Homo sapiens: one gene and its partners. The protein of the gene in region 1 purifies or fractionates together with the protein of each later gene. This does not show direct contact. Each region holds a gene or a part of one and is shown on either strand. Other genes may lie near its edges. The genes, in order: IFT57, TRAF7, EHBP1, HOMER1, STX18, IFT172 and EXOC7.

Region 1 (3,500 bases):
AAAAGTACATCAACAATCAGCTTGAGAATTTGGTTCAAGAATATCGTGCAGCTCAAGCCCAGCTGAGTGAGGTAATTTAAGAATGATTTCCAAGGATTTATTCAAGTTAACAACCCTAAACCCTAAACTTGACACAATACTGTTCATTTGAGAATCATGAAATGCTTTTCATGAACAGCAAAACATCAATTTTCTGCCCACTTTAGGAAGCCAAGAGAGCCGAGTGAACTTATTTCCATTTCACATGTAATAGAAGTTGTTTTCTCCTGGAAGTCTTTAAATGCACGTCTTCATTTGATTTAAGTAAATGAAGGCATATGCTGTTGGGGGAACATAGCTTAGAACAGGAACAGAGTATCAGGACACCTGGTTTTGCTTCTATAAGTCTGTTGTTAATTTACCATTGGCGTAGGAGGAAGAAGAATAGTATGCATTTACATGTGTCAAAGGAAAAAGACAGTCCTTGCCATTCTGGCTTACAACCACATAATAAGGAATGTGAAAGCAAGATACATTCAGAGACAAGCAGTTTAATTAATAAAATGAGACAAATTTTTCATTCTTTCAAAGTTTTAGAATTTTAACCAAAAAATAAAATCACTAGACTTTGAAAGCACCAGTTCTTTGTCCCAGCAGTAGGGATCTAAAAGCTTTCCTTTGGGATTTGTGCCCCCTATTTTCTGATGTTAAAGAAGGCTAGTAAGGACAGTTGCAAACATCAGTTGAAGGCATATTTTTTGTCTTCAGCAGACAAAGTTGAGAAAGAGAAAAAAGTAGAAGTAAATTTGAGATACTTCTATACTTTCAGAAGTCCTCAAAGACTAAATAGAAATCTACACTTTTTGATGTTATTTGTTAAATGTATTATTCCTTCATATACACAATTACTTATGAATATTTTAACTATCAAAATGATGTAAAACTCTCTGATCAAAGCCACCATGTATTTGTCTAATATTAATATTATATAATTGATTGTTAGTTTCTGACATACTCCAGTTGAGTGTACTGTCTTACGGGATGTTAATCCTTATTCATCATTGAGCTTCATGCTCTACTTTGATTGATTTTTGGTTTTAGAACGGACTTTCTCTGCGGAGCATGCAAATTAGATTGACCAAGAGCCCCTCTCCTAAACTGTTTAGGAATGACCAAGGACAGTTTTTATTGTGAACCATGCCCATGCGAGGTACACAGTCAGTTTGTGAAGGTTAAGGTAGTTCATCATTTTGTAGTACTTAGTTAAATACATGCTGCCTATTAGGGACATAAAACAGCTACAGTTAAATGTCACTTTCACAAATGTATTCACAAACAAGGAGCAGGGTTGTCATAAAATGACCTGCAGAAATTGCAAACACAAAGAGGTCAGTCGTATTTAATCTGCTGCTGCTTTGAATTTGCCATTAAACAAAATGTTTTTCCTCTCAGGCAAAGGAGCGATACCAGCAGGGAAATGGAGGAGTGACGGAAAGAACCAGACTCCTCTCTGAGGTACACACTGATGCTCTTGCCCTGCTTCTCACCTGTCAGCTGGGCCCCAGCCATTGAGAACCTACAAATGGTTTAACACTGCTAATTTCAGTTGCTTCCTGTGCCTTTAAATCATTTTCTTTAGGAGATAATCCCTAATTTTCCTATGACTGAATCAATAATTGATACATTTCTTGTTTCCACAGGATGCCTGAAGTTTCTGTATTAAATTCAACATAAAACCTGCTCATAATATTAGCACACTTATAATTTTCCTCAACATTTTTTACATAATAATTATTATTAACATGGGGATGAATAGTAAAGCACTGACTTAAGGAATCTATAACAAATTTTAACGTTAGTCTGCAAGATATAAGGTTTATTTTTAGTGACTGTTATTGATAATTTGTGTGTGATCCTGGGTGTATTTCTCTGTCCACAATTGGGAGTGGCTTATAACCTCCTCCTTTAGAATATTTGCATAAAAATAAATAGTTGCATTTATTTTTATGATCTTGCAAGAGAGGTAGGACCTGATATATATTCCCATTTTTCACTGAAGAGCCAAAGGAGGAAAAAACCTTGAAAAAAGGTCAGTAGTTTATTTGGGACTAAAATCCAAGATGATCTTTGGTTACAATCCAGTATAATTGGAACAAACTTTACTGTTTTGACAGGAAAGAATTAAACCTCTTTTATAGAGATTATTTGAGGAATAAAGTTATTTTAAAACACTAAAAATATAACATCAGAAATATTTAGACTGTAATCCTGTGGTGCTTCTAAGCAAATAAAACAGTATGTAGAAGTAAAGTGTTCACTTATGTTAGGTAAATTAACACTTGAAGGGAGTCCAGGGAACCATTTACTTCTTTTGGAGTAGATAGTTATCCCCAGTTGTAACATTTCAGATGCCTGAAAAAATTAATTTGCTTTACTTGGATGAGCACTTTATTCCCAGGGAAAGTTTTACTCACCAGTATGATAAAAATAAAGCCTACTAAGTCACAATAATTATAGCTTAGTTGTAGATCATGTAAAAAATTTTCAATTTCTTAAAGATAGTATTTTCTACTTATATTAATGCTGGTTTGGAATTTTGCTAATAATAGAGGTTATAGTAGTATAATCGCCAGATAGAGTGCAGATAGGAACAAGTGTGACAGCAAAGTATGCCTCCTTGGAGTTCGGAGTTCATGATTTGGATAAAGCAATAAGAATATTCTTATATATAGCCATATGATATAAACATTTTTTAGTGTCCTATAGAGGAAAAAGTGACATAATGTCTTATAGAACTATAATATTAAGAAAGATACCCAGAAAAGCTTTAGAAATCTAAAATCTCTTCAGGATGTTTATACTATTTTAATTAATAACCAGTTATTAGAGAATTTCAAAGTATATGCGATGAGATAATTGCGAGGTTTGAGTGTCTAGTGACTAAAACAACTTTGATTGTGTTTAGTATATTGCAACATGAGAAAACAGATGTGACAGCCATTTGGTGAAGTTTAACATTAGGAGCATTCTGAAAAACTGAAAAGCTTTGTATATCTGCATACTTTATATTATTTGAATTATGTCCAAAATATTCCTAATATCTTTATTTTTCTATATGTGTGGCTAATATCTAAATTACATTTTCTTAACACATAATTCAAAAATTGTGAAAGTTTATTAAAATGTAATGCTCATGAAAACTTGTTTTCATGAAAGGTTATGGAAGAATTAGAAAAGGTAAAACAAGAAATGGAAGAAAAGGGCAGCAGCATGACTGATGGTGGTAAGTACATGCTCATTTTAGGGGAAAAACTGAGCAAGAGAAAAATAGCTCTTCAAGAAACCTACTTAACAAAATAGTATTAATATATAAAACAAATTATTTGTTGCTTGTTTGAAGAGAGATTCATTGTACAAAAATGTCTGATAATCAGCGTACTGTTTTTCTTATAAATCAGCTGAGAAGGGTAGGCTTTTTAACTATAATTTAGAGGTTTTTAACATTCAAACTATTGATTCAA
Region 2 (3,500 bases), on another chromosome or scaffold:
TGGGCTGTCTACCACTCCTGCTGTCTCCTCTCCCATTCTCTAGGCTGCCCAGGCCCACCTGTCCCTTCCAATGCCACCTGGAAGGCCACCCACCCTGGAGCCACTCAGCCTTCAGGACTCGGGCTCAACCCGACATCTCAGCCCCTGCAGTTGGCAGCGCCACGAGCTACCTGGCCCCACCTGATCTTTGCGTCCCATGGTCTCGGGAGATGGGGCCTGGCCAAAGCCTCCCTCGGCCTTCCCCAGGCCCCACTGCGACTCGAGGGGCTTGGCCCTGTGTGACCCAGACTAGGCTCTCGGGGGACTTCTCTTGTGGAAGAGGCAGGGGCTCCTGAGTGTGGGCAGTGCCACACACCTGCAGCCAGGCTCAGAGGAGTCAGCCCTGGGACAGAGGTGTGGTCGTGGTGTGTCTACAAGGCTGCTCTGCCCTGGCACATGTCTATCCCGTCTCCAGCAGCTCCCGGCAGGAAGGTCGGGGAGAGCTGGCCAGGGCTTGCCTTTTGCCATTGTGCTTGGGGTGAGGATGTCCCAGCTGGGGTAAGGCCCTGATAGCCTGAAGTGCAGGGCGCCATGACTCGGCACAGGAGGTTCAGCCCTTTTGGGAGCCCCAGGTTGGCTCCTGCCCTCTGGGAGCAGGGAGGGGATCACCGGGCAGCCACTAGGAGACACTGACCTGCATTTTACAAACCCATCAGCTCCCTGTACTGCAAGCTTCCGGGGCCCCAGGGCCAGCTGCAAGCCCTGCCAGTGATGCCTGCCCGGGGGCCCAGGTGGCCAGGACCCCAGCAGGCACTCCCCTGGGATGGGTCGGGCTGGCCTCAGTGCCTGTTGCTCACAGTCTGGGAGAGCAACTGTCTGGCTTCCCCCTCACTCTGAAGTGAGGTGAACAGAAAGGCACGCAGGGCAATGTGCAAATCAGCCAGAAAGTCCCAGCTGGCCAACAGCAGCCGGGCCACGGGGACAACACCACAGGATCTGTGGGGTGTGCGCAAGACCCCATCGAGCGCCAGCTGAGGGGGACGGAAGGAGGGAGGGGACGGAGGGAGGGAGGGGGCAGAGGGAAGCAGGGGGACGGAGGGAGGGAGGGGGACGGAAGGAGGGAGGGAAGGAGGGGGATACTCTGCACAGGAGGCTGCTTCCCAGTTCACTCGGGTTCAGTGTTCAGCCCCAGCCAGGGACATGGAGGCGGGCGGGACCCTGGGGCTGGAGGCCAGGGAACGTTTGTGTCCCGCCCTAAGGCAGGATCCATCCCCGCACCTCGGAATTGAGCAAGATGCCCGAGGCCTCCCCTCAGCCCAGTCCCCAGGGACTGGGTTTTGCAGTAAGTTTCCCCAGTAGGGAGAGGACCCCTTGGGCCACAACTGGAAAGCACAATAGCTCAGCATCCCCTGATGGCTGGGAGGCTTTTCTGGGGGCATGCCCTGGCCCCCCAGAGGGAGAGTGCCTCTTTCCCCACCCCACAGTCATCGAGGCTGGGGGGTGGCCGGGCAGGAAGTTGTCAACCGGAGTGAGAATTCCCCTTCAATTCTCTGGCCTCTCTGCCCTCCAGTTCCCAGTGCTGGGGAAGTGGGGGTGTGTTCCATAGAATGAGAGACTCTTCCCAAACCGGGAAAAGCCATGGGGGCAGCTAGTGGCTGAGAAAGGGCTTTCCCCATCAGCCCCCCTACCCCTCCCTTCCATGTCCCCACCACGCCTGCCCGAGCACCGCCCGCCCACCCACACCGCCCGCCCATCCACACCGCCTGCCCGAGCACCTCCCGCCCACCCACACCGCCCGCCGGTCCACACCTCCCGCCCGTCCACACCGCCCGCCCATCCACACCGCCTGCCTGTCCACACCACCTGCCCGTCCACACCACCTGCCCGTCCACACTGCCCATGCTGGATGCTCCAGGAGTATTCGATCTTTGAAAGAGAAAAGTCATTGAGGAAGCGCAGCATCCACCCTGGGGAAGGCCAGTGCTGACCTTCAGGGGCGAGGTGCGTGGGTCAGCACCGTGCAGAGGGGAAGGGCAGGATTGGCCCCCCACCGTCCCCTCCAGCTGGGGCCAACGCAGGGCAGCCCCTCCCTGACCTCGCCTGAATCTGGGATTCAGGCCCAGGGTCTTTGTCCACCCCACATTCACGTAGGAGGGATTCCGGGGCCCTGGGGGCACCCACTGTGCAATAAGGAAGTGGAAGTCTTCCTCAGCGCCTCGCTGCCTCCACCCCAGCCCCTCTTCGGCAAATCCCTCAGGAGCCCCTCCCTAGCTCCCACAAGCTGGGCTTAGAGGGCTCTGCTGGGGCATCGCCCTGGGGGCATGTGGGATGCGGACACCCACCCCTTTCCCTGGAGACACACCTGGAGGGGGTCTGGGTCAGGGGTCCCCGCCCACTTGGCAGCAGCCTGGGGGGCCCTGCTGAGTGGGGGAGATGGGGGCTTCCAGATGCAGCTCCCTGCTCGGGCCAGGCCCGGCCTTAAAGCAGCTCCTCCAGCAACCCGGAGCAGGTGGGGTGTGGGGGTCCCCTGAACATGTGTGGGGCGCAAGCCATGGGTGGGTGTGCCTGTGAGGCCTGCAACTGCCCTGGGAGGAGCCTGGGACGGCTCCAGAAGCCTCCGCCCCGCCTGCCACAGGGCTGTGTGTGGCCGGCTGGCTGGACTGCGGCCAGAGCTCCGAGCGTGGCCCCTGGCATCACAGAGCCTGCCCAGGGCACCCACAGACTGCCCGCCCCAGCCCAGCCCCTGCCTCAGCCCCCTGGCCCAAGCCCAGGCCGCTAAATTCTATAGAAACAGGCCTGGTTGCCATAGCAAAGCCACACGCACTTCCGCCGCTGTTCCCTGACGTCCCTTAGAACGTTTTTTCCATCCCAAATAGGCAGGGTGTGACGTCGAAGGCTCCTGGGGTGCCCCGGCCTCTGCCAGCCTTGGTCCTTAGGATCCCCTCAGAACCCCAGCAGGCCCTGGTCTGAGGCCGGCTTGGCCCCGCTTCCCTCCTAGCACGGCGAACCCCCTTGCCTGTCCCTGCCCCCAACACCCACAGCCCCAGCTCTGCAGAGGCCTCTGAACTCCTCCCCCAGCTCTGCTCCTACTGCATCCACTCAGCCTCCAGGCCTGTCTTGCCCTGGCCAAGCCTCTCCAGCGTCCGTATCTCCCTCTGCTCCAGGGAGGGGGTCCCCACAGCTCGGCCAAGGCTTTACCCCAACTTCACAGTAAGGATGCCTTTTGCTGCCCCTCCGACCCCTTGGGGGCTGGCAACATCTCTCAGTCCTTTTTTCCCCTGTATCTCATGGCTGTCTATTGTGTGGGGACCTGGCCCAGTCGAGGGGAAGTCCAGAGGGCTTCCTGGAGGATGAGGCTGCTGGGATCCAGAGTGGGGAGAGTATCCTGGGGCACAGGAAGAGACCCCAGCTTCACAGCTCTGGGCTGGGGAGTGCGTTCCTGGCTCTCACCCAAGTCAAGTGGGCCTCAGACTCTCAGAAACAGGTCGTGAGCTTTGCCCAAGAGCCAAGGGTGGCAGTGT
Region 3 (3,500 bases), on another chromosome or scaffold:
TGTTTTTTACCCTTTTTCTCCTGAGGTGTTTTTCATAGCAGGAGTTTCATTCTACTGAACTAAGTTGTAGGATCCCTCAAGCTAACAAACATCTTTTAGATACTTTTCCTATAGTTTTTTTTGTTCCAGATTATTTAATGCCCCCTCAAGAAAGATAAATTCATTTCTGCACACATTGGGGTGGGCTTTTAGAAAGTGGTATGTTCATTTTCTGCACAAGAAATGGATCTTCTCTAGGATTTTGTACATCTTGATTTATTCCTGGCTTAGAGTTTGAAGTGGGCGCTCTTCTAAAGGGATTTATGCATAGGTTCACTATTTTTGTAGTTATGGTTTATATGATAAGCTTTTTATATTTAAAATCAATATGTAATCCTGTGGAGGAGCTTATCCCCTAAAACCCCATTTGTAAATCTATTTTAGCTTTGTTACACAGTACAGCCACAGTCTTCCATAGATTGATTAGGTACAGCGGTAGAATCCTATCAAATGGCCTGTTCTGATGATGATGCAAACTCTTTCAGGATTGCTAGTTGACTGGAACTAAAGATAAGACTTGACTGCAATCCCCCAATGTGCTCTTTACAAAACTAGTGTTAATTTTCATCAAAGTGCCAGGCTTATTTATAGTGGCAAGGTTGAAGGTTTACTACAAGAACTTTAGGTCCTTTCTGTTAAAGTGTTTATAGGTATTTCTCTTGCCTTTTTTCAAGGTAATTATCAACTTCAGCAAATAAACTGAATCAGGGAGTGAATAATTGGCCCTATATATAAAAAAGAGTTTTTTAAACTAACAAAACAGCTCAGTGCAGATGGACATAAACAGAATCTCTTTATTTCAACACTTTGGCTCAAATGCAGCATCAAAACTTAATCCTATTTGTTACAAGAGGATATGGCTTTTGTAGCAAAAGTACACTGGAATCTTTAAATTAATCAGAACCCACATTGTAGTTTGTCCAAGCCAAAGTCAGTGCAGTTAGGCTTGAACATGCGAATGTGAATCTTGATCAATTTTAAATGTAATATTACATTTTTTAAAAAAGATAAAAATAGTTTACTTAATTTCTCAAATTAGCATTCAAATATATATGTATATGTATACATATGTATGAGTTTGTGTACATATATATTATATAATTTATTCCCATTATGAGAAAACAAACGTGAAGTAAAAGTATAGTTTGCTAATGTAAAATCTATTCACTGCACATTGCTATTTCCTGTACAGTTGACTAATATTTTGTAGACAGATATTAATGTAGCACTGTAATGACAGATTTAATATTTTAAAAACCTATAAATTTATGCTGGGATATTTTAAATTCTAATGTCATTTAAATTTGACTCTGAAATGATGAAAATTACCTAAATATTCTTAATTTTTAAATGATTTCATTACAGTTATAGAAAATGTCATTACTGAGCTAGGGAAAAGTTAAGATATTTTAAATTACTCAATACTTCAAAGGTTAAAATTTTCTTTAATGTCCTCTCTTATCCATTTTGTTAAAGTCCTAATTTTTTCAATATTAATGAAATCTTGGTATTTTTAATTACTAATTAAAGCCTTAAAAGCAACTGGTCAAGTTCAGAGAAGGAATAATTAAGAAAATTATATGTGTTGTTAAAATTTATGTTTTCTTGGTTTAATTTTTTTAATATAATTTTCAATTTAATTCTATTTTTGAAAATGTATTCAATTGTAAAGCTGTTAGCAAAATGGTTTCGAAGTAAATAATTATAAATCAAAGCTTATAATCAGAATGATTTCTTGAGGTTGGAAGTGAAAAAAATTAACATTCATTAAACTAGTAATCTTAATATAAAATTTAGTCTCAAATCTATTACACATTTAGGTTTTTTTCTGAAATAATATTTCTAGAATTATAGTTACCTGAAATTAGACTAGATGACCTTTAAGATCTTTCCAACCTGGAGAGCCTATTAATTTACCTGCTGAATAAGACTGATTTAAGAACAAGAACCAGATTAAAAAATTTTCCAGCATTCCTCTCCTCAGTTGCATTTAAATCCAAAGAATAAAATTGTGATATATATGGCTGCTCTTCAATTTTGCTGTTTATTATTTTTTAAATTATTATATTCAAAGAAACCCTTTCCAAATAGTTTCTGTATTCATCTCCATGCTATAGAATATTTCATTTTTAAAATAAAAATGTAATAGTGATCAGTTATTTAAAGTATTTGTGTGGTTTTATATCGAATGTGGATAATTAACATATAGCATGTTTCATATAAATATGTATGTATGTGTTAGAGCTTATAATGAAAGAAATAGTGATAAATTGAATAAAACAGTCTAGCTTTTTGCTGCTTTTCTAACCTTTATTGCATGATGATGCATCTAATTTTTAATTTGTAAATACAAGATAGAATTCCCTCTAGCACCATTTGCTTTCATAAAGCTGCTGAGCAGTTTGCTGTCTTGAATAAATTTTGCTTTGGAGGGGGTCGGGGGGGATTTGAACCAGCACATTCTTGTGTGGTTTGTGAAGATTCACATGGTAACCAGCGGTGTGCATTGTTAGGTTTATCTGAATAAGCACCAGCCATGTGAGTTTTAACATGATTGCCCAGGGCAATGGAGAGAGAAGAGAGAAACCCAAAAGGATTGCACTTCTCTCTGTTTTTTGGAAAGTGCATTTGCTGGGGGAGGGGGCTGCAGGAGTCAGTGGCCATGGTTCTTTTTTTTTTTTTTTTTTTTTTTTTTTTTTTTTTTTTTTTTTTTTTTTTTTAAGCTGGTGTCCTGTTTCCCTCTAGGTCCTCATTTGTTCTGCTATCTGCCTCATCATCTACTTCTTCTTTTCATTGTTTACCTTCCTAATGAGGGAGGCGGGGTAGACTGGGGGTTGATTGACAGCTACAAGCCCTTACAGTCTGGCCAGAGAGCAGTTGGCTTTGGTTTCAAAAGTGTTTTAAATGTTCGATTTGGTCCTGTTTCTATTAAATGAAACTGCTGCTCATCTTAAGGAAATCATCAGACCAGCAAAGATTAGGAAATATATTATTGGGGTCTAAAACCTTCAAAAAAAAAAAAAAAAAACGCCCCCCATCCATGGAAAGAGCACTGCCCATCGGGTTTTCCAACCTTTAACATAGGGTTTCAGAAAGAAATATGTAATTTTTCCTTTGCAAAAGTGCTTTGATTTGAAACCACCCAGCAAACGTCTCCAAAAGAAAACTGGCTGTGATGCGATCGAGAGCTGCAGTGTAATATTGCAGAGCAAATTTATTTTTTACTTCAAAGAAAAATGCTAATTAGCCGATTCACTACTTTTAAAGTTATTGTGAAGCATATGGCGCCCAGTGTGAGATACATCCAACTGCTAAAATAGAGCGAAGAGGAAATTAGCGAAGAATGGGCTGTTTGGGGTGAGAGTGGGGGTGGGGGAGGAGGATAGGTTCTCAGGCAGATTCTCTAGCCTTTTCAGAATGATTTTATCGCCCATCACTGTTTCCCGCCTCCTCATTTACCC
Region 4 (3,500 bases), on another chromosome or scaffold:
TGTCCAGTTAGTCATATTAATCTGAAATAACAATCCAGTAACTAAAAATAAATACTTCAACTAAACACTAAAGACTGAAAAAAAAAAAAATCACATGGCAGTAGAGAGGTTAGACCTTTTGGGATATAACCACCTTTTCTTCTGAGATGTTTAATCACTCAAAACTATAAACTATGAATAAGGACAGTTTCTTCTGTCAACCCCTTAACTCCCAAATTCACTATTTTATGACCCATAGTTAGTGACTCTGCTAAGAACATACCATGCTCTTTGCTACATTCTTACCTCTCCAATGAAATGTCCTAATTCTGAAAAAGCCCCGTTCAGCCAACTACACATCTCTCAGTCACCATCCCTCCCCTCCCCACTTCGGAACCTTCCAGGGCCTGCCCAACTGTCCACTTCCTCTACCCAGCCAGAGTTCATTGTTCTGGCTTGGTGTTTCCACAGGATACAAGACACAAAACCAAATTGTAAATGATTTTTAAAATTGCTTTCTTATTCTACTTCCCTGATCATGTTCTTACTCTGCTTAAAACCCTTTAGTAATCTTCACACAGAAGAGAAGTGCTTTTCAAATTACCAGTTGCTAACACAGCGTCATTAAATAAATTGAGTGGGTCACCATCATCAGTCTATCTTAAAAATAAAATAGAACGGAACAGAATAGAAACTACCAGAGTGTACCATACAAAGCAAGGGTATTATGTAGTGACATTTTATCATTTATATACAAGCATATTGGGTTGCAATGTAAAGATGCTTATCTTTCCAACGGGTCATAGCCAAAAAAACCTCTAAACACACTAAACTACAGGATAATCCAATCTTTCATTTGATCTACATGGTTCTCCAACCCAGTCCCTGCATAATAAGGCTCTAGACCTATCTCTTGCTACACCAAAGGGAGCTAGCTCAAGCAAACAAGCTTGTCATGCCAAACTCCTTTGCAGTTCCTCGTTTTAGTGGTGTCAATCACTGTTCTCTCTGCCTTGAATGCCCTCTTATTTGTCTAAGAGGCTCACTTGTACTCATCTTTCAGTATTTAACAACTATCACCTCCTCTACAAAGCCTTTTTATCCTTCCCTCAGCAGCTAATGCCCCCCCAACACACACTTTGTGTCTCCATAATGCCCTACATTATAGCTCCTACAAAATTTCATTGCACATTTTAATTTTAGGCTTGACTGTCTGCCCAACTTCCAAAGTATAAACTCACTAAGGGAAGGAGCACATTGTATTGGCCTTCCTATCAGCAGCACTGAGGTAAGTACACGCACTATAACAAAGGTTCAAAGTTGGTAAAATGAACAAATGACGAATTAAGGACTTGCATCTAAGTTGTCTATTGTCAGATATGATAGGGTGGTTATCTTTGCAATAAAACCCATTTATAGTGCTGGATCAAGATTTTCACATTTTTGCTACAACCCCTAGAGAGCAGAACCCTGCAGTTTGAGGCAGAAGGAGGTGTCAGCTTCCCATCTTTCAGCAAAGAGACTCAGTTTGGGCTGCAATGTAGCAGCACTCATTTCCATGCTTCTGGAAGTTATTTGGGGAAAGAGGGGAAGGAAGGACTCCAGAAGTTCCCATAGGCAGGTGAGATAAATCAGAAACAGCATTAACAGATTCCATTAGCAGGGAGAGCCCCATTTTATGTATAAGTAGCTCTTAATAAGGGAAGGGAGGGAAAGAATTCTTTACCATTGCTGATGGCACTAGGTTGCCAAAATGAGCTAAGTAAAAACAAAGGGTTTCATGAAATAAGTGGTTGAAGTTACTTGATTTCTGTTGCCTACTGTGATAGTTCTGAAATAGCTACTGACTCACTGCTGTCATTATGAGATACTATTTGGAGGTGGGGGTGGGGGTCATACCTAACAGGGGCTCCTCACTGAGGCTTCAAAACTTTTCAGAGACTTCATTTTACATACATGAATGCCTTAATTTTTAGGGGATCTGATACACCTATTTTACAAACCCATACTTTAGTTGCCTTCACTGCAATTAACAGTTCATGCAACATCCAAGATACTTTGACAGACTTTGCCAACTGTCAAGTTTCAGCTGTTCTTCTCCATTTCCAAAAAGTTCATAAACTACTATTAGGGGAGCCATAATTTTTTTCTGCCCAATCACTGATTTTATTAAAAATAATTCCTTTGCTTAGACTGCCCCTAGACTTGCAATAATTATCTACAATTAAGACGAAGATAAATCCTTATTATAACCTAACATTAGTTTAAAAAAAGAAGGTTGTAATATGTGAAACACTTTACCCACAGTATTAAATTTTAGATATCTATTACAGTAAGGTAATTATGGATTGCCAAGGTAAAGCTTTAAAAGCCATTTAAAGCCCTGTTTCCTTTTGCTTGAAATAGGTCCAGGCAGCTATGCTAATTCCACAAACATTTATTAGGCATAAATACGCATAAAGTGTGGAAACGTCAGCAAATGCCTTTGCTGTATGCTCTTCTACTTCCATCTACCCTTCCTCTCTCTACTCAAGTCACTATCAATGAGAAAGGGTCATAGCCCCAAATACAGGCTTTCCAAAAAAAAAAAAATAGCACCACAAAATGCTCGCTCCTTTTTCTCCTCAGTCCATATATAGAACTTTATTAACTAAAGGGCAGATACATTCATTTATAAACAAATTAATTATGCTAAGTGTCTAAATGCATGTTATGTGTGGTGCTAACTTTCCCACTTTAAACAACAGCCCCCTTAGTATTAAATTCATCCTGTCTCTTCAGATTCTAGGCGCTTCAGGAGCCGCGCCTTAAGGTGCAGACATGGCCAAGTCCAAGAACCACACCACACACAACCAGTCCCAAAAATGGCACAGAAATGGTATCAAGAAACCCGAAGCACAAAGATACGAATCTCTTAAGGGGGTGGACCCCAAGTTCCTGAGGAACATGCAGTTTGCCAAGAAACACAACAAGAAGGGCCTAAAGAAGATGCAGGCTAACAGTGCCAAGGCCATGAGTGCACATGCCAAGGCTATCAAGGCCCTCCTAAAGCCCAAGGAGGTTAAGCCCAAGATCCCAAAGGGTGTCAGCCGCAAGCTCAACTTGCCTACACTGTCCACCCCAAGCTTGGGAAGCATGCTCGTGCCCGCATTGCCAAGGGGCTCAGGGTGTGCTGGCCAAAGGCCAAGGACAAGGATCAAACCAAGGCCCAGGCTGCAGCTCCAGCTTCAGTTCCAGCTCAGGCTCCCAAAGGTGCCCAGGCCCCTACAGAGGCTTCAGAGTAGATATCTCTATCTGCCAACGTGAGGACAGGACTGGTGCGACCCCCCGCCAGGCTGCCATCTGCATGGGGCTGTGGGGCTGGGGTCCTCCTGTGCTATTTGTACAAAGAAACCTCAGGCAGGGAAAAAAAAATTCATCCTAAGCTTCCCTTGGTAAAATGACAGGCATTCATGCAGCTTAAAGGTTCTGGAAAACTGATTTTCTTCCATGATGCTACTACTCCACAGTCTAGACAAAAT
Region 5 (3,500 bases), on another chromosome or scaffold:
ACCAGAAGTGTTTTGGATTTAGGGTTTTTTCAAATTTTTGCATATTTGCATTGTCCTTACCAGTTGAGCATCTCTAATCTGAAAACTAAAATCTGGAAAGCTCCAATGAGTATTTCCTTTGGGTGTCACATTGGAGCTCAATAAGTTTCAGGGATGTGATTCCTGCCCTCAGGGAGCTCACAGTTGATGGGAAAGATAAGGCTCTAGCCCCTGGGAGAAAGTAAGTAGTACCTCAAGAGAGAGCAGAGGGCCAGGGAGACTTCAAGAGGAGGTGGCACTAAGAAGTGAGTCTGGGCCAGGCGCAGTGGTTCACACCTGTAATCCCAGCACTTTGGGAGGCCAAGGCGGGTTGGATCACCTGAGGTCAGGACATCAAGACCAGCCTAACATGGAAAAACCCCATCTCTACTAAAAATACAAAATTAGCCAGGTGTGGTGGCACACGCCTGTAATCCCAGCTACTGGGGAGGCTGAGGCAGGAGAATCACTTGAACCTGGGAGGCGGAAGTTGCAGTGAGCCAAGATCGTGCCATTGCACTCCAGCCTGGGCAACAAGAGCGAAATTCCGTCTCAAAAAAAAAAAAAAAAAAAAAAAAAAGTGAGTCTGGACCTGAAAAAATAAAAAATGAAAGCTTAGAAAGTTCTAGACAGAGGCAGCAGCATGAGCAAATGCTCAGAGGCCAGAAAGCCTGGAGATTGGGTGGGATATAGTCAGTAAAGAAGACCCGTGGGGATCAGTGAAGCCCATCAGTGGGAGGAGAGGTGGGAGTAAGCTTGGAAGGGTGGGTAGGGCCTTGAATGCCAGAGTAGGGAGTCTGGACTTGCCTCTGTGGCACCAGGGTGCACGGGTGGCCTGGGCAGAGGACTGGCATGGTGGGTGCTGTGCTTCAGGCTGATCCTTAGGGCAGCCTATCAAGAAGGCTTCTGATGGCCACAAATGAGCATGTTGTAGAGTGTGAGTTCTGCTAAGAAAACTTTCCCATTCTAGCTCAGAGTTAATTTATGCTTGGTTCAGATATGAACAAGGTTTCTGTTTCTAATTTTGATGTTTTTTTCCTTAAAAAAGAAATCAACAACAGTAAAAGCTTGAAATGGATACCATAATGAGGACAAGTAGGAGACAGCTCATAAGGTGGGGGTGGGGGGTAGATGAAAGTACAAATGTTCCTACCCAAAGAATGTCATCTCAGGAAAATATCAGATCATTTCTAAAGATACTTTTAGCCAACCTTTTACAAACACATGTTTTTCTATAATGACACTTCTGGTAAAAACAGCCATTTTTCTAAAAGCCTGCATGCACTAAGTTGTGGATGACATGCAGTTTTTTTTGTAAAGATATATTTCTAATAAATAACCATAACTTTCAGGCATGGCCTGCCTAGTGAGCTTTCTCTACATTGTTGCTATCATTACGTTCTCTTCCCCTATTTAAAGATCTGGACTTGTTGCCATCTCATGGGGCTGAGACTGACTACAGGAAATTTACTGAGATTGAGGAAAAAAGGAAAAAGAAGCAGTATTTGCCTTTGAGTACTTGGAAGCTCACTGATAAGCCCTGAGACACAGACACAAAGTGACTTCATTACAGTCTCCCCCGAGGATCCATCCCTGCCATCCCTCTCCCCTCCGCTCCCAACCCTACCCCGGTGATGAACTGCACAGACCTCTTACCGTCATCCTGGGCGGCAGCAGTCCTTTCTAGGGGCCTGTGGTATTGACATGCTTCAATGGAGGATGCATCACCTTTCCTTGATCATAATGAAAAAGTTCTCCAGATTAAAATGTTCCTACGCTCCCTTTCAGCAGTTGCATGCCCAGGTATCTGTCCTAGAGAGTCACTCCAGCATGTGCACATAGCACAGACCGGGACACAGTACCATGACACCAGTGAACAGTCTGAAACCACTGAGGTCTGTCAGCGTAGTTATGGCTAAAGACCAGTGTATCCTCACGATGGAATATCATGCAGCAATTTAAAAGAACAAGGTAGATCTACTTGGACCATCTCCAAGATGTATCAATAAATCATACAAAGCAAGTTTTAGAACAGCATGTTACTATTGATATCTGTGTGAAAAGCAAGCCGCCATACACACAAAACTGTGTATTACTTGAATTTCATGGGTAGACAGGGACTCATATATCTTTGTATGTGAATATCTTTAGATAAAATCTATGAAGCTACATCAAAGCAGTAACATCTGGGAGAGGAATAGGATTGGAGAACAGTATATCACTTCCTGTATATATATATATATGTATGTATATATGCATATGTATTTTTTACAATAAAAATATGTCTTACAGTCTTTAAAAGTAGACAGGGGTGTATGTGTCTTGAAGTAAAACATACTTTAAGACTCATTCTGAAGAATTCTGAAGACATTCTGAATAATGTCCATTTAGTTTGCAGCCATTGCTGACATCAGTGCGATACTGAAACCGTGCATAGGTCCCCCTCCCCATCACACACACACATGCACGTGCCTGCACAAAGACAATTTAAAGCCTAAATGTTGTGAAAGAATCATGTCTGCAGTGCCTGAATATTAGCCCAAAGATCATGAAATATATAGACAAAGCTGTAAGATTCTGTTTAATCTCTTGTTTGTGTTATGACTACATCCTAAGCCAGCCTATTCTAAAACACATATTTGGTCTTCTATTTTCAATTTTTTTTTTAACAGAAAAAATTTTGGCTGAAACACAACCTGAATTGGGAACGTGGGGAGATGGCAAAGGCGAAGATGAGTTATCCCCAGAAGAAATACAAATGGTAATGCTATTCTCTGCCTAATTATTTATTTTTAACTGGTTTTCATAAGACTGTTTCACTAAGGAGAAACTCATCCTCAATGCCCTTGCCCTTATTTTTATACTGAGTTTTAAAAATTATAAATGTGTATTTTATATACACTTTCCCATTTGATTTCCTAATTCTTACGGTGCTTTTCATATGCTTTAAATTTGCAGTAGCATAATTAAAGAAGACATTTTGCCTTGGAAGAATTTTACTAATAATAGATGTCTTTTCAACAACAGTAAAATAGTCTTCTAGACTAAATGGGTCTTTTATAAATGCCACTATGATGCTTTTTAATTGTTTGAATTGCTAGTGCTATGGTAATGTGAAAAAAGTAAGATAATGACTGAAAAGTGAAAAGAGTAACACCTTAACTACTGATAGCACCTCCTTTTAGTTACCTGCCTTCTGGTTTCCAGCTGCTATAGCTTACCATCTATGGGTGGGTTTCAAAAGGAACTGATAGGTCTGCCAAGCCCCTGCCAGCTCACGTCCAGCAATGTCTGTGTGCAGCTCATCTGGACACTGGTGTGACAGAAGCCAGATGGAATATGCTATCTGTGTGTGGGAATAGATGTCACCTAGAGCTGCTAGGATGTGACACTGTCCTCTAAGACGTGGGGAATGTGACTACCACACGGCACGCCTCCAGTGACTGTGCCTGGCAAGTGATAGCATTTTAAGTGTGCAGCAG
Region 6 (3,500 bases), on another chromosome or scaffold:
TGGACTCAAGCAATCCAAGCCTCCCACAACATTCTTTATTCATACCTGTGACTCTCCAGAGCCTTCATCATCAAAGAAATACCTAACGATGGTACCATCTGCATGACCAGAGAGAATTCCTTTCCCAGAGCAACTAAAAAAGGAGAAAGGAGAGAAATACAGGAAGAGACTATTTTATCTCACCAAGAAAGCCCCTTTCTCTGTCAAACACAACCTTGTCTGTGCTTCCTGCTACCAGTTCTCCTGCCTTTCATACTATGGTCTTGCAGTCCAGACTTCCCCACAGCATTTTCCTAACACTTCCAGACTCTAGTGATACTACTCCTCTTTACTCACTTTGTTGTCAGGGACACCACGTAAGACTCTGTCCCATAGATGGTAGATGATTTATTAGTTTTGGTGTTTGCTAAACGAACCTGAAAATGGAAAAATTGATACAAGTATGGTTAGGCTATTTTATATTTAACTAGGCCCTAAGAAAAAAAGGAAAAACTGTCCCACAAAACTGGTCCCTATGCATTCTCCCCAGTACGCAACTTGATCCTAAGAAAGAGGATGAACCATATTCCTCTCTCCAGAACCATTATCCCTACCACCCCCTCTCTTGTGTTTCCCTTCCCTCTTTTACCTTCCCTTCAGCCAGTCCAAAGACAATGATGTATTCTGCCGGCCATTGCAGACAAGTGACAGCACTCTGCGTGGAAGGAAACAATGAAAAGGATAACCCCATCTGTGTGGGCCAGCACTTTTATAACAACTTCAACACCCCACCACACACCACCACCTCAATCTCCTATAGGGAAGGACACAGCAGGGCTCTAAGGAAGACAGCAGATGACCATGAACAGCCATGAAGCACCATCCTTGCAGTAGGAAAAGTCACATTCAGATGTTAGAAATGCAACTCCTGGCTGTATTTATAAGTAGATATACTGATATATGTTTGTTCATCCTAAGGTTCCAGGGACTGGTCTGAACTTTACCGTCTGGATGAACTTGTTGCAGATGACTTTCTTGTCACCCCTGCCAAACAAAAGAAGGGGAAACATATTAAAAACCACTTCCAGGCCGGGCGTGGTGGCTCATGCCTGTAATCCCAGCACTTTGGGAGGCCGAGGCGGGAGGATCATGAGGTCAGGAGATCGAGACCATCCTGGCTAACACAGTGAAACCCCGTCTCTACTAAAAATACAAAAAATTAGCCGGGTGTGGTGGTGGGCGCCTGTAGTCCCAGCTACTCGGGAGGCTGAGGCAGGAGAATTGCGTGAACCTGGGAGGAGGAGCTTGCAGTGAGCCACAATCGCGCCACTGCACTCCAGCCTGGGTGACAGAGTGAGACTCTATCTCAAAATAAATAAATAAATAAATACCACTTCCATAAACAAATTGCCAAAAATGATGCTGAGGGAAGAGAAGAAAGAGCAGATTTCTTCCCTGGCCCAGTAGTATTTCTGACTACTCTGTAGGAGCCCTGAAAGGAGGTATATGAGGGAGCCTAAGCAGCTTCAGAACAATAACAAAGATGTGACATCACTCTGGGCTTCCAGGATCTCACAGGGCCTCCTGTTGACCTTGGACTGTTTCCTCCAGGGATGGGATTGAAGAACACGTGGGACAGGTGAAGGCAGAAAAGCAAAAACAGACTCCAGAAAGTCTCTGCCTTCAATGGCCAAGCTTGGCTTCTCATCCCCTGTATTTCCCCTCCCCAGTGAGGCATTTCTCTTGCCTTCCCCTTCTTTCCTGGGCCATCCCATCTCCCAGTCTCTATCCTCACCAATCTTCTCCAATCTTGTAGACATAGATGATGTTGTCAGTCTGTCCTATGGCAATTTTAGTGGAATCAGGAGAAAAAGCCATGCCCTTCACCATATAGCTCTTCCTGCCATACTAAGAGTTTAAAAAAAAAAAAAGAAAGAAAAAGAAGTAATGAGTACACATGAAAGAGAAAAGAGAAAAAAAGGCATATGTGTGCTCCTAAGGGAGCTTGAGGATTTATACTGAGAAAAAGGTGGGGTATGCCATTTCCTATGCTGATGGCTAGAAGGCAGACTACGTCTTTCAAGTTGTGAGACCCCATCAATAGGTTAAATAAGGTACACATGAATACACTGTTTACCTTCATGTCAGCTGGTTTGGTGGAGAATTTATCTCTCCGTTCTCCATGTTCATCATACAGCAAGACCACTCGGTCCACTGTGCAGACAGCAAATTTGGCATTGTTCTGGGACCAAGCCATGCAGGTCACCTTTGCAGCTCCATCCTGTAGAGGCAAAGGGGTAAAAACAAACCCATGTGCTGGTCTAGAATGCCAAAAGCATTTCTAGCTTCATTAATTCTAGTGTAATACTGGTCAATTTTCTTCCTGTCACGGTTCTATCCTCAAAACAAAGAGATGCCTGTGGCCCATGCTGGTCTCCAAGGCCTTCAGATCCTGGACTGTGAGAACAACAGGCTTCTAGAGACTCATATGCAAATGCACTAAGAGGCAGGGTGCTAAGTCAACTGTATCAATGAATCCCTGCAACGGCCTCCTCGTTTCCAGGTCTGCTACTGAAATAAATTCAATTAGTCTGGTAAGTTTTGGTCATTAGCCATTCATTCAATTAATATTTTTTTAGCACCTTATTGATCAAGGCACTTGGCCAGGGGCTGAGAGAGAGACAAAAAGCAAACCATAGATCCTGCCTCCACGTCTAATAAGATGGTGCAAAATAGAAAAGTCCTATTAAAGTATGTATAAAGTACTACAATAGTTTGGAGAAGCCTGAGAGAATTTTATGCTTAAATTATCAAAATTAAGCTTTGAAGAATGAATGCAGTTGAGTAGGAAGTTATCTGAGATGGGAGGAATGGCAATGAGCAAAGGCAAATTCTGGACAAGAAACAGTAATTTAGTTTATTTGAAACTATTATACCTTATAAATAGTAGAATAGACGGGGTAAGGCAGGAAAAACAGGCCAGCTCAGGAAGTCTTTGAAGCCAGGCAAAGGAGTTTGGGCTTATTTGAAAGGAAAGGGAGAGACAGTGAGAGTTCAGGATGGGCGAGTACGAGTTGAGACTCAGGACGAATAATCCCACTTTCTTTTCTTCTTAACTACCCACTTCAGAGAAACCCAAGTTAGAAGTTATCTCCAGGTGAATTATTCTGACCAGATCTGACCCTTCCAACACTAGCTCTGGTCCTAAGGGACTAGCTCTGCTACTAAGGGTTTCCTTCCTTGAAAACAAAACATTTTATTCTGCTTTTCTTCTGCCCCAATTGTTTAATTATTTGGACACTAGAGTTCTGGCTTCAAACATTGACACTTTACACTCCAAACTCACCTATCTCCAAAGTCAGAAGTAAAAAGTCTATTTTCCTGCAAATCCTCAAACCAGAAAATAGCCACACCACCATCACTATGATCCTCTAACTCTTCATTATATTAGGTTAGAAGGCCTGAGGGCTCCTCATCAATCTTTGCTGATCCTCCTGCTTTATCGCTTTGCCCAATTCTGG
Region 7 (3,500 bases), on another chromosome or scaffold:
TTCTCCCCGGCATCATATCCCTTATAGTCTGTGCTCCAGGTAAACAGTGTCTCTGCCAGCCACAGCTTGGCAAGCCCGGCTATGTCTGGCCACTGAGAGATGCTGCCCGCAGCTCGATGATGTGCTGGGATGTTCTGGGGTGGGGCTGCTGAGATTGCACTGAAAAAGAAAGCTGGAGAAGCCGGGGCTGCTCCCACCCAGGCTGGCCCCCTGTCCAGCTGCTGCTGTGGGCACATGCCCTAGTTGTGGCCTGTGGCACCTGCTTATGACAACAAGCTTTGGGTAGAGCTTACTTACACCCTTGGTTTCTCCAGTCCCTGCCTGCTCATGCCCCTCAGAGAGTGAGGTGTCTGTTCCACAAGAGCACCCGCTCCCCTGCAGGCCTTTGTTTAGGGTTTGGAGAAACAGGCAGAGCAGGGGCTGCCCTCAGGGAGTAGAGCATTAGGGAGCTGGTGCCTGGGGCCTTCTCCCTCCAGTGTGGAAATCCTGCCCACCAGCCAAAACCTGCTGCAAATGGGGACTGCCAGCCCAGCCTGTGGGCGCAGCTGCCTGCACAGTGGATGGAGCAGCTCTGTGCCTTCTGTGTGGTGGGGAGTGGCTGTCTCTATGAGGCTGCTAGGATGCTTGGGCCCCAGCCAGTCTGTGCTTGCTTCCTCTTCTGCCTGGCTCCCTGACAGGTCCCCCAGAAGCCCCAGAGCCCTATTTGCACTGCCTTAAGAGTGCCCGCTGGCCATGCAGCTACCTGGCCTTTCAGGCAGGAGGGATCTGATCTCAGGTGGCTCACAGTGGACCACATCCATCCTTGGGCCAGAGACACTAGAGGAAAACTCCAGCTGTGGGGTTTCAGAGTTGTCAGGAACTGGTGGGCTCAGGACCGATGTCAGGCTCTAGGGAGTCAGGCTCTGGGGATGTCGGTTCCCACTTCTGAGGAGAGGGACAGGGAGGCCTCCCAGGTGGTGAAGCACCGACCTCAGCATCCCTGGAGGCAATTGGGAGCCTGACGGGTTTGGCGGCTGCTAGATCCACATCGGCGACCCACATCCTGCCGGCGTGCACCTGCGTCTGTGTCTGCTCCTGGTGGGTTGTGGGGCAGGAATCAGATTCACTCATTAGTAAGCCGCACTCGCTGAAGGGGAGAGCATGAGCAAGGGAGACGTGAGCCAGGCCTTGGTTATTAGGAGCTAATTATGGGCCAAGTATGGTGGCTCACGCCTGTAATCCTAGCACTTCGGGAGGCCGAGGCGGGCGGATCACCTGAGGTCAGGAGTTCGAGACCAGCCTGGCCAACATGGTGAAACCCTGTCTCTACTAAAAATAGAAAAAAAATTAGTTGGGTGTGGTGACGCACGCCTATAATCCCAGCTACCTGGGAGGCTGAGGCAGGAGAATCACTTGAACCCAGGAGGCAGAGGTTGCAGTGAGCCGAGGTCGTGCCACCGTACTCCAGCCTGGGCGACAGAGTGAGACTGTCTCAAAAAAAAAAAAAAAAAAAAAAACAAGCTAATTGTGGTGTTGTGCGGTGCGGTGCGGTGCAGGTGTAAGCAGTGAGCCTCCAGACACTGCCCCTTTCTCCCTCAGCTTTCTGGGGAGCTGCCAGGACACAGCAGCCTCACTGTGCTCAGATAGACTGTGGGGGTGGGAGGCATCCCGGGTGCCTTTCTGCCCCTATACATTTTGTTAACAAGGCAGCTGCACTTGTCTGCTTGAGATGCGAGTTGATTTCCCGACGTCTTCTGGCCCGAGATGTCTCATTCCCACAAAGGAGGCTGACCCAGGCGGCTGTGGGTGCTGCCATTTTGTTCTCATTGTTTTCACTTGTGATACTAACTATTGTTTTTCTCCCCCATGCCAAGAGCATGTGCCCTCTCCTTCCGTGCACACCCTCCAGGCGCTCTGTGTGGTGGCTTCTGTTAACCCCTTCTTGACTTTTGGATTTTTTCTTGTCGCTTTGGTGGTTTGGGGAACTCTGGTGTGGGGCTAGGCTGCCTCTGGGTCTCTGAGCCGTCCGCCTTGGGCACAGCGCTCCCCCGGAAGTTCAGTCAGGGTGGCTTCCTGCTGGCTGCTGTTTGGCGTACGTCCCAACACTGAGCATGCTCGGAGAACTCTGCCTGGAGTTTGGGGCTGGGCTGGGGGCCTGCTGGCTTCAGGGTGCCCCCCAGGCTCTCCCACCCTGGTTGTGCCCTCTGGGTATGCGAGCTTTGTCACGGGCTCCTCCGACCTGAGCCCTCGCCTGTTCTGATTATGATGCCACTCCATATTTTTGACTTCTCCTGGTGGATCTTGGTCCATCTTCATTACCCTCTGTCCTTTCAGAAATGAGCTGAAATCCAGAACAAGGAGGGTCGGTAGTAGAATCAAGGCTCCATTTGGAGAAGGAAATGACTCCTTTCCTTCATCCTTGTCCCCAGCGTCTCTGGTGGTCTCAGGGAAAGGCCTGCTCACTGTTGGGGAGCTGGGTGCGGGGCCTGGGGGGCAGGTGGAGGGCCGCTGCTGTTTTCTCTCACTCATTTCCTAGGTCTTCTTATCTCCTCTCTGTGTGGCTCTGGTGACAGGGACGATCCGTAAGGCTCAGAACCTTCTGAAACAGTATTCCCAGCATGGTCTAGATGGGAAAAAGGGGGGCTCTAACCTCATTCCTCTGGAAGGTAATCACCCTGTGTTCCCCTCCTGTCCCTTCCTCCTCCACTGTGTGTCCACGCACTTGGCAGGGCAGAGCCTCCCCCAGGAGGGCCTCGGGAGAAACCCTGAGGGGAGCAGGGTGGGAACGGCAGGTCCCCGATGCCACTCGGGCTTCAGCGGGCACAGGGACAGTTTCGCAGCCCTCGGCCTGGTCCTCTCTGGCTGATGGCAGCTCTGCCCTCCCTGAGGCTTCCCTCCTCCCTTCCCTGTCTCTGTCCTTGTCTCCTGTGTGAACTCAGAAAAAGTTATTTGTCTTGGGGCAGCCCTTTCACGCTCAGACCAGCAGTGGCAGGCCCCAGCTGGCCGAGGCCTCCCGGCCTTCCCATCTTTAGAAAGGGGAGTGTGTGCAGCAGAGGACAGGCAAACTGGGGCTTTCCCCAAATACAGCGAGGTGGGGAACCCCCCTGGGGCCAAGCATCAGCTCTTCAGCCCCTCCTTGGTCCTTCTCCGCTTTCCCTGGGCCTCCAGGCTCGGGGAAATGAGCAGCTAAGGACGGTCCTGGGTGCTCACTGAAGTCAGGCTTGAAACGGCTGTTCCCAAGGTGGCTTGAGGTAGAGGAGGGGCTCAGGGCCCTCTCCGATGCCCCCTTCCCCATCCCCATCTGACGTCCCCCTCCTGGAGATGAAGGGCTTCTTCCCTGTACCCCAAGGGGCGGCCTGCCTGGCCCCTGGATAAACGCTGCTTGTGTTTGTGCGGCCGACATCTCGCCAGGTCACGAGCATGATTTCCGAGTTAAGCACCTGTCCGAGGCCTTGAACGACAAGCACGGGCCGCTGGCCGGTGAGTACCGCAGCCCAGCCCGAGGGCAGCCGCTGACACTG

Evidence for each region.
Region 2: the proteins of IFT57 (region 1) and TRAF7 purify together in Homo sapiens (affinity purification with mass spectrometry; 4 studies listed by BioGRID and IntAct, with this or other methods). This does not show direct contact.
Region 3: the proteins of IFT57 (region 1) and EHBP1 purify together in Homo sapiens (affinity purification with mass spectrometry; 4 studies listed by BioGRID and IntAct, with this or other methods). This does not show direct contact.
Region 4: the proteins of IFT57 (region 1) and HOMER1 purify together in Homo sapiens (affinity purification with mass spectrometry; 4 studies listed by BioGRID and IntAct, with this or other methods). This does not show direct contact.
Region 5: the proteins of IFT57 (region 1) and STX18 purify together in Homo sapiens (affinity purification with mass spectrometry; 4 studies listed by BioGRID and IntAct, with this or other methods). This does not show direct contact.
Region 6: the proteins of IFT57 (region 1) and IFT172 purify together in Homo sapiens (affinity purification with mass spectrometry; 5 studies listed by BioGRID and IntAct, with this or other methods). This does not show direct contact.
Region 7: the proteins of IFT57 (region 1) and EXOC7 purify together in Homo sapiens (affinity purification with mass spectrometry; 4 studies listed by BioGRID and IntAct, with this or other methods). This does not show direct contact.

The regions. Positions count from the first base shown.
Region 1 is NC_000003.12:108,163,425-108,166,924, reverse strand, and holds part of IFT57 (intraflagellar transport protein 57 homolog), read left to right. Parts: coding exon 1-71; intron 72-1,431; coding exon 1,432-1,494; intron 1,495-3,195; coding exon 3,196-3,262; intron 3,263-3,500. UniProt on the Homo sapiens protein: Required for the formation of cilia. Plays an indirect role in sonic hedgehog signaling, cilia being required for all activity of the hedgehog pathway.
Region 2 is NC_000016.10:2,158,782-2,162,281, reverse strand, and holds part of TRAF7 (E3 ubiquitin-protein ligase TRAF7), read right to left. Parts: intron 1-3,500. UniProt on the Homo sapiens protein: E3 ubiquitin and SUMO-protein ligase that plays a role in different biological processes such as innate immunity, inflammation or apoptosis. Potentiates MAP3K3-mediated activation of JUN/AP1 and DDIT3 transcriptional regulators.
Region 3 is NC_000002.12:63,041,213-63,044,712, forward strand, and holds part of EHBP1 (EH domain-binding protein 1), read left to right. Parts: intron 1-2,709; exon of another isoform or gene 2,710-3,500. UniProt on the Homo sapiens protein: May play a role in actin reorganization. Links clathrin-mediated endocytosis to the actin cytoskeleton. May act as Rab effector protein and play a role in vesicle trafficking.
Region 4 is NC_000005.10:79,507,635-79,511,134, forward strand, and holds part of HOMER1 (homer protein homolog 1), read right to left. Parts: intron 3,384-3,500; exon of another isoform or gene 2,753-3,383; intron 1-2,752. UniProt on the Homo sapiens protein: Postsynaptic density scaffolding protein. Binds and cross-links cytoplasmic regions of GRM1, GRM5, ITPR1, DNM3, RYR1, RYR2, SHANK1 and SHANK3.
Region 5 is NC_000004.12:4,434,049-4,437,548, reverse strand, and holds part of STX18 (syntaxin-18), read left to right. Parts: intron 1-2,690; coding exon 2,691-2,779; intron 2,780-3,500. UniProt on the Homo sapiens protein: Syntaxin that may be involved in targeting and fusion of Golgi-derived retrograde transport vesicles with the ER.
Region 6 is NC_000002.12:27,483,244-27,486,743, forward strand, and holds part of IFT172 (intraflagellar transport protein 172 homolog), read right to left. Parts: intron 3,000-3,500; exon of another isoform or gene 2,916-2,999; intron 2,261-2,915; coding exon 2,117-2,260; intron 1,888-2,116; coding exon 1,775-1,887; intron 1,024-1,774; coding exon 984-1,023; intron 924-983; exon of another isoform or gene 785-923; intron 695-784; coding exon 629-694; intron 417-628; coding exon 337-416; intron 134-336; coding exon 46-133; intron 1-45. UniProt on the Homo sapiens protein: Required for the maintenance and formation of cilia. Plays an indirect role in hedgehog (Hh) signaling, cilia being required for all activity of the hedgehog pathway.
Region 7 is NC_000017.11:76,090,288-76,093,787, reverse strand, and holds part of EXOC7 (exocyst complex component 7), read left to right. Parts: intron 1-2,552; coding exon 2,553-2,645; intron 2,646-3,306; coding exon of another isoform or gene 3,307-3,459; intron 3,460-3,500. UniProt on the Homo sapiens protein: Component of the exocyst complex involved in the docking of exocytic vesicles with fusion sites on the plasma membrane.